2 separate regions of the Homo sapiens genome follow, and region 1 is linked to region 2. Evidence: fine-mapped expression QTL. A gene starts in region 2. The other region holds a variant in brackets. All regions are shown on one strand. Distances are from middle to middle. Region 1 overlaps SLC10A7 (solute carrier family 10 member 7). Region 2 holds the start of SLC10A7 (solute carrier family 10 member 7).

Region 1 (5,350 bases), 270 kb before region 2:
CATCTATATAACGACAAATGACATAACGGTGCAGAAATGAATCAAGAGAAATCTAAAGACACTTAGAAGGCATCACAAGGCCATCTGAAATCAGGTTAAAAATAAGCCACAGTTTCTCTTGTGATTTCTGAAACATTCTTTGTTTAATCATATAATTATTTTCATCTTCCAGTCATCATAAATAATCCACTTTATGACTTAACCAATCCTTTTGAAAAAATTTGGTATTTAGCACAAACACTGAACATTAGCTAGAGGTGTGTTAATTTTTAACAGAATAGGGAAAAATTTTAAAAAACCCACAAAAATTTTAATACTAAGAAAAAACATGAAAATACCAACATTATTACCCATTAAAAAATCTAATTTTGTAACAACCATTAAAAAAAATCCAGGTGGAAAAATGAGTAAACATAAATATAATCTAATGTATTTCTTTCATAAATACATTTAGACAAAACAAATGCATAAAACAGATAGCTTTACAGTGTATAAACATAACAAAATATTTTAAGCTCTGAATAATTAAATCCCAATAAGCATGAATTAAAAATAAATTTTGATTTTATTTTTTGTTCTTTATGAAAAAATATGCCAAGGAATTTGTGTAAAAAAAAGAAATAGGCATAAACATATCACTAACGCCACCAAAGTTCACTATGTAAAGATTATTTGAAAACAAAGCACATTTTTAAAGCAAACGATAAAATGTTATCATAGCATTTTCAGTTGAATTTTATCCCATGATCACACCTACTATAGGTGTTAGACAATAGAGGTAGATAAGTTGGGGGCGGGGATCAGTATTTTAATGTTAGGGAGAAAGATTTTTATGATAGGGCAGATAGATGACAGACAGACAGACACTTCCATTTACTCCAAAATTCAAAGAAACTTGTAGGAACAAAACCTAAGAGCCTTCCTGTGCTCCATAGGTAAGCACAATTACCTAAGCAAAATTACTGTAGTTTTAGACACAAGTAAAATTCTTTATAACAGTGTGTACTACAGCCTGGTTAGCATAGATTTTTGCAGGATCTGGCATTAGCCTTAAAATTCACACTGAGAATAACTCTTATGAAATTTATTCAATGACATTGACAAAAGATGAGACCTGGTAGTAACAATAATATAAATTTACACAGTAGATAAACTTGGTGAGTTTCTAAGGAATGATTTTTTGTTGTGGGCATAATAACGAAACAACAAAAACAGCTGCTGAGGACATAGCACGGCCTCAGTGAGACCCAGGATGCCAATATTGTCTATCAAATCAAGAGAGGACGTGTAAGAGGATGTGACAGGACGGCATGGGGGAAACACAGAAAAGTGTTCTCGTAGTTCTATACGTGGCTTCATTCTCTACTTGGGTCCAGTTACAGTTCTTGCAGCTATAGCAGAAGCAAATATTGGACACTCATTTGAAAGCTGCTGCCCCGTTGGGAACTAATTTTACTTGATATTTTGGTTATTAAATGGTTTTGCATGTTCTTTTCATCTGGAGAGACAGAATGTGTATATGTAACATTTGTTTGCATCCATGACCTTTATATTTTCATTTATTCATGAAAGCAATATGATTTAACTTCTAAAAAAATATTGCCAACATTTGTCAAATCTGCCAAGGAAATTTTCATTAATAAATTGTCTCAAATACCTTAAGTGTGCTTAATTCCAGGATGTAACAGGCTGCTTTTGGCCAACAGGGGCAATCTGGAAAGTGCTCAGCACATCTGCGTAATAGGAAAAAAATTTGGTCTGGGTTGTGGAATGTGAATAGAATCTACCATTAATTGATGCTGCTTTCAAACTGATTGTAACATTTTTGTGCCTCATATTTGGCTGTTATGAGTGTGTAAGTGCAAGACAGAAATTATTGAATAAAGAGGAAGAAGATATTAAGATATATTTTAAAGACCCTGAAAATCAAATCACAGAGTTTAACTCAAAATTTCACATGATTTCACTCATAATTCAAACATTCAGACCCTTTCTTTGAAGCAGCTTATAATAAATTTAAGACATATAACCACAATCTCTCATAATGGGAGTGAGGAATTTCTGTGTGGAAACTATTTGAAGGAATGTCTTTAAAAATGATGTCAAGGAATGCATATATCTTACGCTTTTCAGCATCTATTCGATCTATGACCCCTGCTGAGTTGATAAGGAAGAGGCATGTCACAGTCGTAGAAAAAAAGAATCACACAGTAAATCAAAGTATGCATGAATAAGACTTTGGAAATTTTCACTGTCATCAGAAGGGCATTTTCCTGATGGTGTGACCTCATTTCAAACATTACAGTAACTACTATAGGGTTGTATT[G/A]CACAAAGGTGCTGCAGGGAAAGCATGTTTGCTTTTTGTCACTTACCATGACTGATTCCTGCATTAGGAAAGCAAAATTAACCCCCAAATATTGTACCACCCCTGGCAGTAATCAACAAAGCATATTTTGGAAATAACGCTCTTGTCAAATACATTTTAAGGCACTTAAACAGGATCTCATATTTTTGTGTAAAAAAATAAAATATGCATTGAGGCAACATTCACAAGTACAAGTCTTCAGAATTGCTAGTATGTACAATCCTGTACATATATACATTGCTACAGAAAGTCCACCTCCTTTGTTATACTGTCGGCCTTGTCAGCTTCACTCCCTACAAGGAAGGAAAACATGTTCAGAGTTGGACAGTATCCATGAGGAAAGTGAAAGCATCAATTAACACCAGATAATTTATGCTATTAGAAGGAAGAAGAGGCCCACCCAGATGGCATCATATAACCAATAATCCAAACCTCTGGATACAAACAGATTTCCCTGCCCACCTCTCTGGCCAGCAGACTTTGTCATTTCCCCTCCCACACCTGGCCTGGCTACTCGTATGGTTCCCCTGTGCACTAGATGGTAGCCTTGGGTCTCAATCAGTACTGTGTGCAAAGCAGAGGAGGCACTCATGGATACCTGGAGGATGGACTCTTGGTATTTATTTTAATGCCCAAATTTGATGGATAGATATTCCAAGCCTTCTGGATTATTCAAGTTAGCCAGTGGCCCCCTGGTTTGGAGTAGTTTCTACACAAAGGAAAAATGAACAACAGTGTACAATTTAGTCTCCCTTTTGGAAATGCTTCTGTTATTCTACAGAACAAATTCTAGAGCTTTTAAATGTTTGGAAGAAAAATTCACTCTGATTAATTTGCTGTTCACTATGGCTGTATAATATTGATGAGTATTAGGATTTTCAAATAATTTTCTTCATTCTTTGTCAAAATTTACATGTACAAATTCTGACTGACAATTGCACACATATTGATAAACATAAGCATAAATAGAAATAGAAAATTTCAAAGGGGATAAACAGTAAAAGAAAGAAAAAGTTACTGAACTGTTCCACAACCAACTCCGAGTAGGAGGCTCAGAGCCTGGAGTGGTACCCAGCATAGAAGAGGAATCTTTTTTATGTTAACATTTTGTTAAATAACTGAATTAGTGAACATGTTGGATGGGCTGAACTTCTCAGGTAGGATCCTGGGTGCCTAGGGCAAACCTTCTAAAAGTGATGTTACATTTCTATCTGGAGTGTCATCACCGTGTTGGGTAAAGATTTTGGGGGTCAAATAGCCCAGTGTTCAGGTCCTAACTCCAGCACTGGCTGAACTACCCTATGGTCTCAGGCCAGCTGCTCAACTCCCTGAGCCCATTTCCTAACCCATAAAATGGAGAGAGCAAAGCCTGCAGTGAACATCATTGTAGATAATGATGAACAATGATGATAATAATTATGGCAGCTAGCATTATCAAACACTCATCACGTAATCCTCTACAACCCTAGGGTGTAGATATTATCATTAGTCAGCAGAAACTGAGCTACAGAGAAGTAAAGTATGCCCCAGGTTACAGGATGAGAAGGCCAGCAGCCTGAGCTCTGAGCCCAGGCAGGCTGGCCCAAGATCCATCCTTTGAACCAGGTAGAGGATAGGATGTGCTTAGCACACACAGTGCTCAATAGGTGGTACTGTGGCCATCCTATTTTCAGGATATTAAGAACATGACACAGGGCACTTGTCATTGGATACCTCTTCTTCCCACACATCTCCTGATAACAGTCACTACTTTGTGAATAGACAAAAATAAGTCCTGGTATGTCCAAATCACTGGGAAGGAGTCAGTTCTATCAATGCTACCACGTGATATGCACCATCTAAACTTCTTGTGAATCACCTGGTTTACTTATTTTGTTGATAATTTAGGAAATGAAATCCACAAATATCTAATGTGTACAAGATTCTAAGTGTGGTGAAATTAACATTGCATGGACTTCTTAGCTACTTAAAGTTTATTTTTTAATGCCCAAATGCAGTTTTGCTGTACAAATAGGTTATTATATATCTGGAAAATTAAAAATAAAGTAGGCAACCTGGATAATGCCAGGTTCTATCTTATTTGGAAAGGCATGTGAAGTAAGACATAGATGAAAGACTGAGGCAAAGATGGTATGCACCAGAGTGGAGCAGGTATCTATTTGGAGTATATTTACTGAACCTTTACCCCATATAATATGCCCTTCAATATGAATGAATTCAAAAGAGCTTGTAAAAACTGCATGTTAAGTATAATTGTCTTTTATAACAATTTAAAATCTTTAACCTCAACCCTCCTGTTCAAATTGGAATGGATCAGTGCACCATTATTATTGTATTTAAGTAAGAAAATATGTACTTGAAAACAAAGATATGCAAGCAAAATCGAAAGTGTATGAACAGTTCAGATTCAGGAACAGCATTTTAATCTAACTTGGATCCAAATAAGATCTTTCTGGGGACTCACCTTCTGCCTTGATACCATCCAAGACTTGATTGTTGGCACCAACACACTTCCCAGAAGGATCTGAGCTGGGTGGTAGATGAGCAAGGGTACAGATATTAAAGAGAGATGCTCATGGCCTGCAAACACGATCTTCAGCATCGGAATTCCTGTTGAACAAAGAAGACAGAAAACCTAAACCAAATTCAGTCTGTCATCAAATTAAATGCATACTCCATCAAAATCAGAACTTTGGAATAGGTTATTACCATATTTTCTCATGTTTATTCACAGAACTGAAATGGGAAAGTCTGAAATGGGTCACCAAAACTTTCCATCTTTCTTTCATGACATAAAGTTCTAACTAGGATAAGGTGGAAAGATGGTCAGTATTCGAGGGTACCAATAATTCTCACGGCAAATTAGAAGCTTATCTAACAAGGAGAGGAGAGAAGATTGCGTGTGATGGAGTTGCTTTAAGAAGGCTGAAAAATATTGGTGAGGGAGATGCTAAAAATGGATCTCTTCTTGCTTAGTAGTGAGAT
Region 2 (5,319 bases):
ATAATATACATAATATCTCAAGGCCCCTCTGAGAGAGAATATATATTATATATAATAATATATTTTATATAATATATAACATATTATATACAATATATAACATAATATATAATATGATAATATATAATACATTATTTAACATAATATATAATATTATCTATATATAGAGAGAGATGACCTACTATGTCTTAGGCATTTGTAGTACAACAATGAATAAAAGAAACAAAGATTTCCTCAAATGCTGTAATAAATTATTTAATATGCCTGGCATTTACACAAATCATTTTGCTGAGATCTAAGAAAAGGGAAAGAAAGGGAGAAGGCAAGTGCAAAAGGCATTGCATTTGGGGGCAGTGAAGGCTGCTCAAAAACTTTTATAAGAGGTACATTATCTTTATATTTGTTAGTGAATCTGTCTCAGCAGCTCACACAGGTAATATTTCTTCAGCAGCTAAGCAAGGTGATTCAGGAGCAGATTTTAAAGTCAAGGAATCTGGCTTGCTTGGGAAGTAGAAGTTTCCCAGGAATTTTAAATACCCTGGTCTCCAATAGTTCCTCTTCCCTAAGCTAGCTACCTTAACCTAGAGAGAGTCACCTGGTATCTTCAACTGTAAAAGAAGCATGTTGGCTTAAAACACTTTAAATATTCCCCTCCCCCTCTTAACATTCTATTATAATTAAACAAAGGAATGAATTATCCTACATTAAAGACAGAAGGACTAGTGGAAATGGGAAATGGCATTTCTATGATACAATAATGTACCAAAATATTAATAAGCAGAGTCTATGGAACACATAAGTTTGCAGAATCTATCTCATACATGCCACTGCAGAAAAGCCCCACGGAAATGATTCAGCATTCAACACCTTTCTTCCCACAGAATATTTAGGAATGCAAGGTAAAAGATATTTTGCCAAACTTAGCCCCTGCAGATTTAAAGTTAAAGATCATACATCCTCTGTAATTTCATCTCAAAACTGAGCAAATAAGAGATCTAACACGAGAAGCGATAGCTAGTGAAGTGTGCATTGCAGATCATGCAAAGGTACTCTAAGTCTTACTATTCATTTAGCTCCGGGGATAGGGGGTCTTCATTTGACAGACCTGATCTTCACAAGAGTTTCCCAAAAGTTCACAGAGCAGCAGTGTTAAAGAAGAAACTATTACCATCAATCAGAGGGAGAAACCACCAGGAATAACTGCTTTATTCTCACAGTTACATATTCTACACATTTTGTTCTAAGTTGAATACAGAAGAACAAAATTTTAAAACAAACAATCCTTCATCTCCACAATTTTGGTTTAAATAATTCCTTTTAAAATGTTCCCGGAAGCTACTTCTAAACAGAGTAATGGGGTGGAGGTTAAGGGGAGAAGGGACCACTGCTGTTCTCCTAAGAGATCATTTCATTCACTTCCATCATGTTTTAACAAAAAGATAAAAATAACTTCAAATATCCTCCTGAGCGCTTCCTACTATGAAATATTGTGCCTGTTCACCTCTATCCTTATTTGCTCCGGTTGCATGAGTTAGGTATTAAACCTGTCAATAAGCTTGGAAACTGACAAACAAGGTCAAAAAGACAAGCGAATTGAATAAATTCAATTAATGTTTATGAAAAGTAGTACAAGATTGTCTAAAGGTGTTGGGGGGGGCATAAAAAACTAATATTTCTAATGTTCCCACCAGTGCCCATCATCTCCTGTACAAAGCTCCCACTATTCAGAGATCTAAGTATGCTTTCAGTCCATCCACATTTCCTTGCCAAAACACACACTACACTACACTACACATAGTCTAACAGTCTGTATCTGTTAGACTGCTAGTATAGCAACTGAATCCCGGCAGCACACGGAAGTATGCTGTAATGAAGTGTCCTGTAATCAAAGAGTGCAACGTGTCAGTCGGCTTGGGAGTTTCTGGAGCACCAGCAACTACAGCAAATCATCACTCTCCAACATGTGGGCCATAAAATCTGAGTTGGGGGCGGAGGTGTCCCTTTTCTTGTTTTTCCTCCACTTTTTTTTTTAATGTGGGGGCGGGGAGGACTCGAAAGTAGACTCGATAATGAGGTCCACTCCAAGATAGATACGGAACTCTTAGCAACCTAGATTCCCTTGGGATAGGATGCTACTTTGAAGGCAAGAGGAGTAAGTTTCATTCTCTGTAACCTCACTTCTTGACACTCAGGATAGTCATTGTTTGTCTACGGAAAAGGCTACCTGCCCTCAAATTCCTTTGCCTCGTTCCTAATTACAAGTTCCCTCTGGGGTTGGTAAATTAGAAAATCAGCAAAAGGGCCAAAGGCTGGTCAGTGCCCCCTGAAATTGGCAAGCGCTTGCAATGAGGGTTGCCCCACCTTTCCAAGACTCACAAATTAGTTCTGAAGTGGGAGCCGCGGTGGAGCCGGCAGAGGTGCAGCACTTACCCCCATTCACCCCTATGGACGGCTCCAGTTTAGCTCCAGCGATCGCCAGCACTATTCCGACCATGAACCAGTCTTTCCTCATTCTCTCCAGCAGCCTCATATTTGTTAGGGTGGGTGGGTTTTGTTTATTTGTTTGGCTTTTTTTCTTTTCAAGCTCCGATCACCTAATCCTTGGAGCGTCTCCACACTTTCCTTGGTCCCTCCAGACATGCAGCAGAGCAAGTCAAATTGCCGATTGTAAAGTAAAGACCTGGGGGTTGCTCCGGCGGCTTTGAGGAGGGTTGGGAGTAGTAGTAGCCAGTGACAGGAAAGTCTCACTGAGCGCCGCCATCACTACCACGCGCCTCAGAATACACGCGCACAAACGCCCCCAGCGCCTCTGGCCGCGGGCTCGCAGGTGCAGATGCTTTGAAATGAAGAACTCGGACCAGGCCGACAACGTGGGCGATCCGGCAAGGGAGGCTGGCCGCCGGATGGGGCTGACAAGCGCACCGCTGTCGAGACCTGCGGAACCTTCTGAATGACGAGGGGTCGGGGAGAGCGTCGTAAGGCGCCACAGCCAGCAAGCCTCACTGACTGTCCTTTTCTAACAAACCTTTAGGCACAGCCACCCACCCTTCTGGAGCATATCTCCATGGAGAGCCTCTCTTTTGCTGTGCCATGACTCCGCGGGCAGGGCTGACGTGTGCTTGGGGCAAGGGATTTCTCCGTTGAAGCTGCGGCAGCGGGGTGCAAGTTTGGAGACGCGCTTCTTCGGGACATTACGGCGCTTCCACGACGCTAGCGCTGACGTATGCGCGGGGGGGAGGGGAGGCCACTCTGGATCTCCGAGTTCCCAGCCTGAGCTGCCGGAGTTAGAGGTGTCCGCGCGGGAAAGTGGCTCGCTGGTGGGCGGGGAGCCTTATCTCTGGCGGTGGGTTGAAAATCCGGCGCCGGGCAGATGCCCACGTTCGCTGGACCCCTGCTTGCCGGCGTCCGCTACAACCCAAGGAAGGTGGGCCCGACCTCGCCAGGTCGCTCGCCTGCGGGTGGGCATTTGGTCCGGATCCCCTTCCCTCTGCGGCCCACACCTGTCTCCGGGACTGGGGAGGGCTGCAGGGATCGGGGCAGATCTGCCTTTGCGGGCCGAGAGTGACAGCTGAAGTCTCCCCACCAACTAAGCTACTCGCGGGCGGAGTGGGGTCTGCGCTGGCAAGCCCCTGGGCGCGCGGGTGCCCGCTCTGGCTCGCCCCCAGGGCTGACCTACCCAAGCCACAGGAAAACTCTGGGAAGAGGGTCGCGGATTCCAACGCGGAAGTGGTGGGGGATTGAGTCTGAGAGGTTGGGGAGTCCTACCTTCCATTGCCACGAGTGCTAGTTCTATCTGCCAGTTTCTTCCTTGAAATGTCTTGTGGCAACCAGTGACATTGATGGTTTCATGAATGGACTTCCTACCGGTAGACCCTGCAAGAGCATGAACTCCACTGTATCATTCATCCAAATGAAGAAAGAAAGAAAATAGTATGTGATATTTTGAAATAACCTGGCATCTGCCACTTAAATGGTTAAAAATAGAACTTAAGGTTTGGAAGAGATTGTTTCGTGATGACAGACTTTAATTCTGAATTTATTCAAAGCTGGAAAGACACTCGTCGTGTCATTTCCTCTATTTAATTTAGCTTTATCTTGATGGCAAGACTTCCAGAAACTAAGCCACTTTAAGAGTTGTGCTCCCAGTTGTAGGTTACACAGTACCAAGTGTCATCTAATTATACATCAGGCAACATGAAAAAAAATTAATTTCAAGATAAAAAGAACTTAACAGGGAGACATAGATGACATTAAGCAGTTTACTCTGAAAAGAGACAGGTACATGAAATATAAAATTTGATGTTAGTTGTCAGGCAGTCAGAAGATAAGTGAAGATAAATGAAAGATAGTTTACAACATAATTATTTTCTTATAGTAATTTCTTAGTAGGTTAAAGAGTCATACGTCTCAGTCATTGAAGGGATAGTTTTGTATTAAAACATCATTAAACATTAAGTTTACAGAAATTGAGCTGTTTTAACTGTACAGCTATTCACAAATTATTTACTAATACCTCTTTGATCTGTGTAGAGCAGAATCTAACTCAGAGATTTTTTTGTTCTGTTTTTAATGGTACTTAAAGGAAAAGAATATAATGTACCATGAATTATATTCTCTTAAGGCCTGTATTTGTTTGCTGTGGATGCTGAAACAAATACTCGAACTTGGATGCCTTCAAACAACAGAAATTTATTATCTCACAGTTCTGGAGGACAGAAGTCCAAAATCAAGATTTTGGCAGAGCCATACTCCCGCTGAAGGCTCTAGGGGAGAGTCCTTCCTTGCCTTTTCTAGTTTCTGGTGGTGCCTTCCTTGGCTTGTAGCTAGAGTGTTCCAATCTCTGCCACTGTTTTCACATCACATTCCCCTCTGTATTTCTTTCTAGTGGCCACATTATTCTAGTTTCTGCATCCATCTTCACGTTGCACCTCCTTTTCTGTGTATCTTTTATAAAGACACTTGTCATTGGATTTAGGGCCTACCCAGATAATCCAAAATGATCTCTCAAGAGCCTTAACTCAATCACAGTAGTCCCCCCTTATCCTGAAAGGATACATTCCAAGAACCTTAGGTAGATGCCTGAAACTGCTGGTTGTACTGAACCCTATCTATATATGCTATGGTATTTTTTCTTATACATACATTCCTATGATGATAATTTTTGGTTTATATTATTAGGCACAATAAGAGATGAACAATAATTAATACAGTCAGGCATTGCTTAACCACCGGGTTACATTCTGAGAAATGTATGGTTAGACGATTTCATCATTAGAGAAACATCATAGAGTGTACTTACACAAACCTAAATAATGTAGT

What was found. PIP is the estimated chance that this variant, and not a neighbour inherited with it, causes the effect.
Region 1: its variant is fine-mapped to the expression of SLC10A7 in blood mononuclear cells (TOPMed, PIP 0.98). The same link has a PIP of 0.9 or more in whole blood.

Annotation. Positions count from the first base shown.
Region 1 is chr4:146,253,863-146,259,212 of GRCh38, forward strand. It overlaps SLC10A7 (solute carrier family 10 member 7), which reads right to left. Exons shown (of 12, transcript NM_001029998.6): 11 at 4,830-4,975; 12 at 119-2,658. The coding sequence ends at 2,629. Among named protein-coding and RNA genes, the nearest start is that of REELD1, 42 kb to the left of the region's middle. The variant G/A (reference allele first, on the strand shown) is at 2,327.
Region 2 is chr4:146,519,188-146,524,506 of GRCh38, forward strand. It overlaps SLC10A7 (solute carrier family 10 member 7), which reads right to left and starts at 2,753. Exons shown (of 12, transcript NM_001029998.6): 1 at 2,431-2,753. The coding sequence starts at 2,530. RefSeq lists enhancers at 1,881-2,110, 2,551-2,620, 2,841-2,920, 2,931-3,350, 3,521-3,600.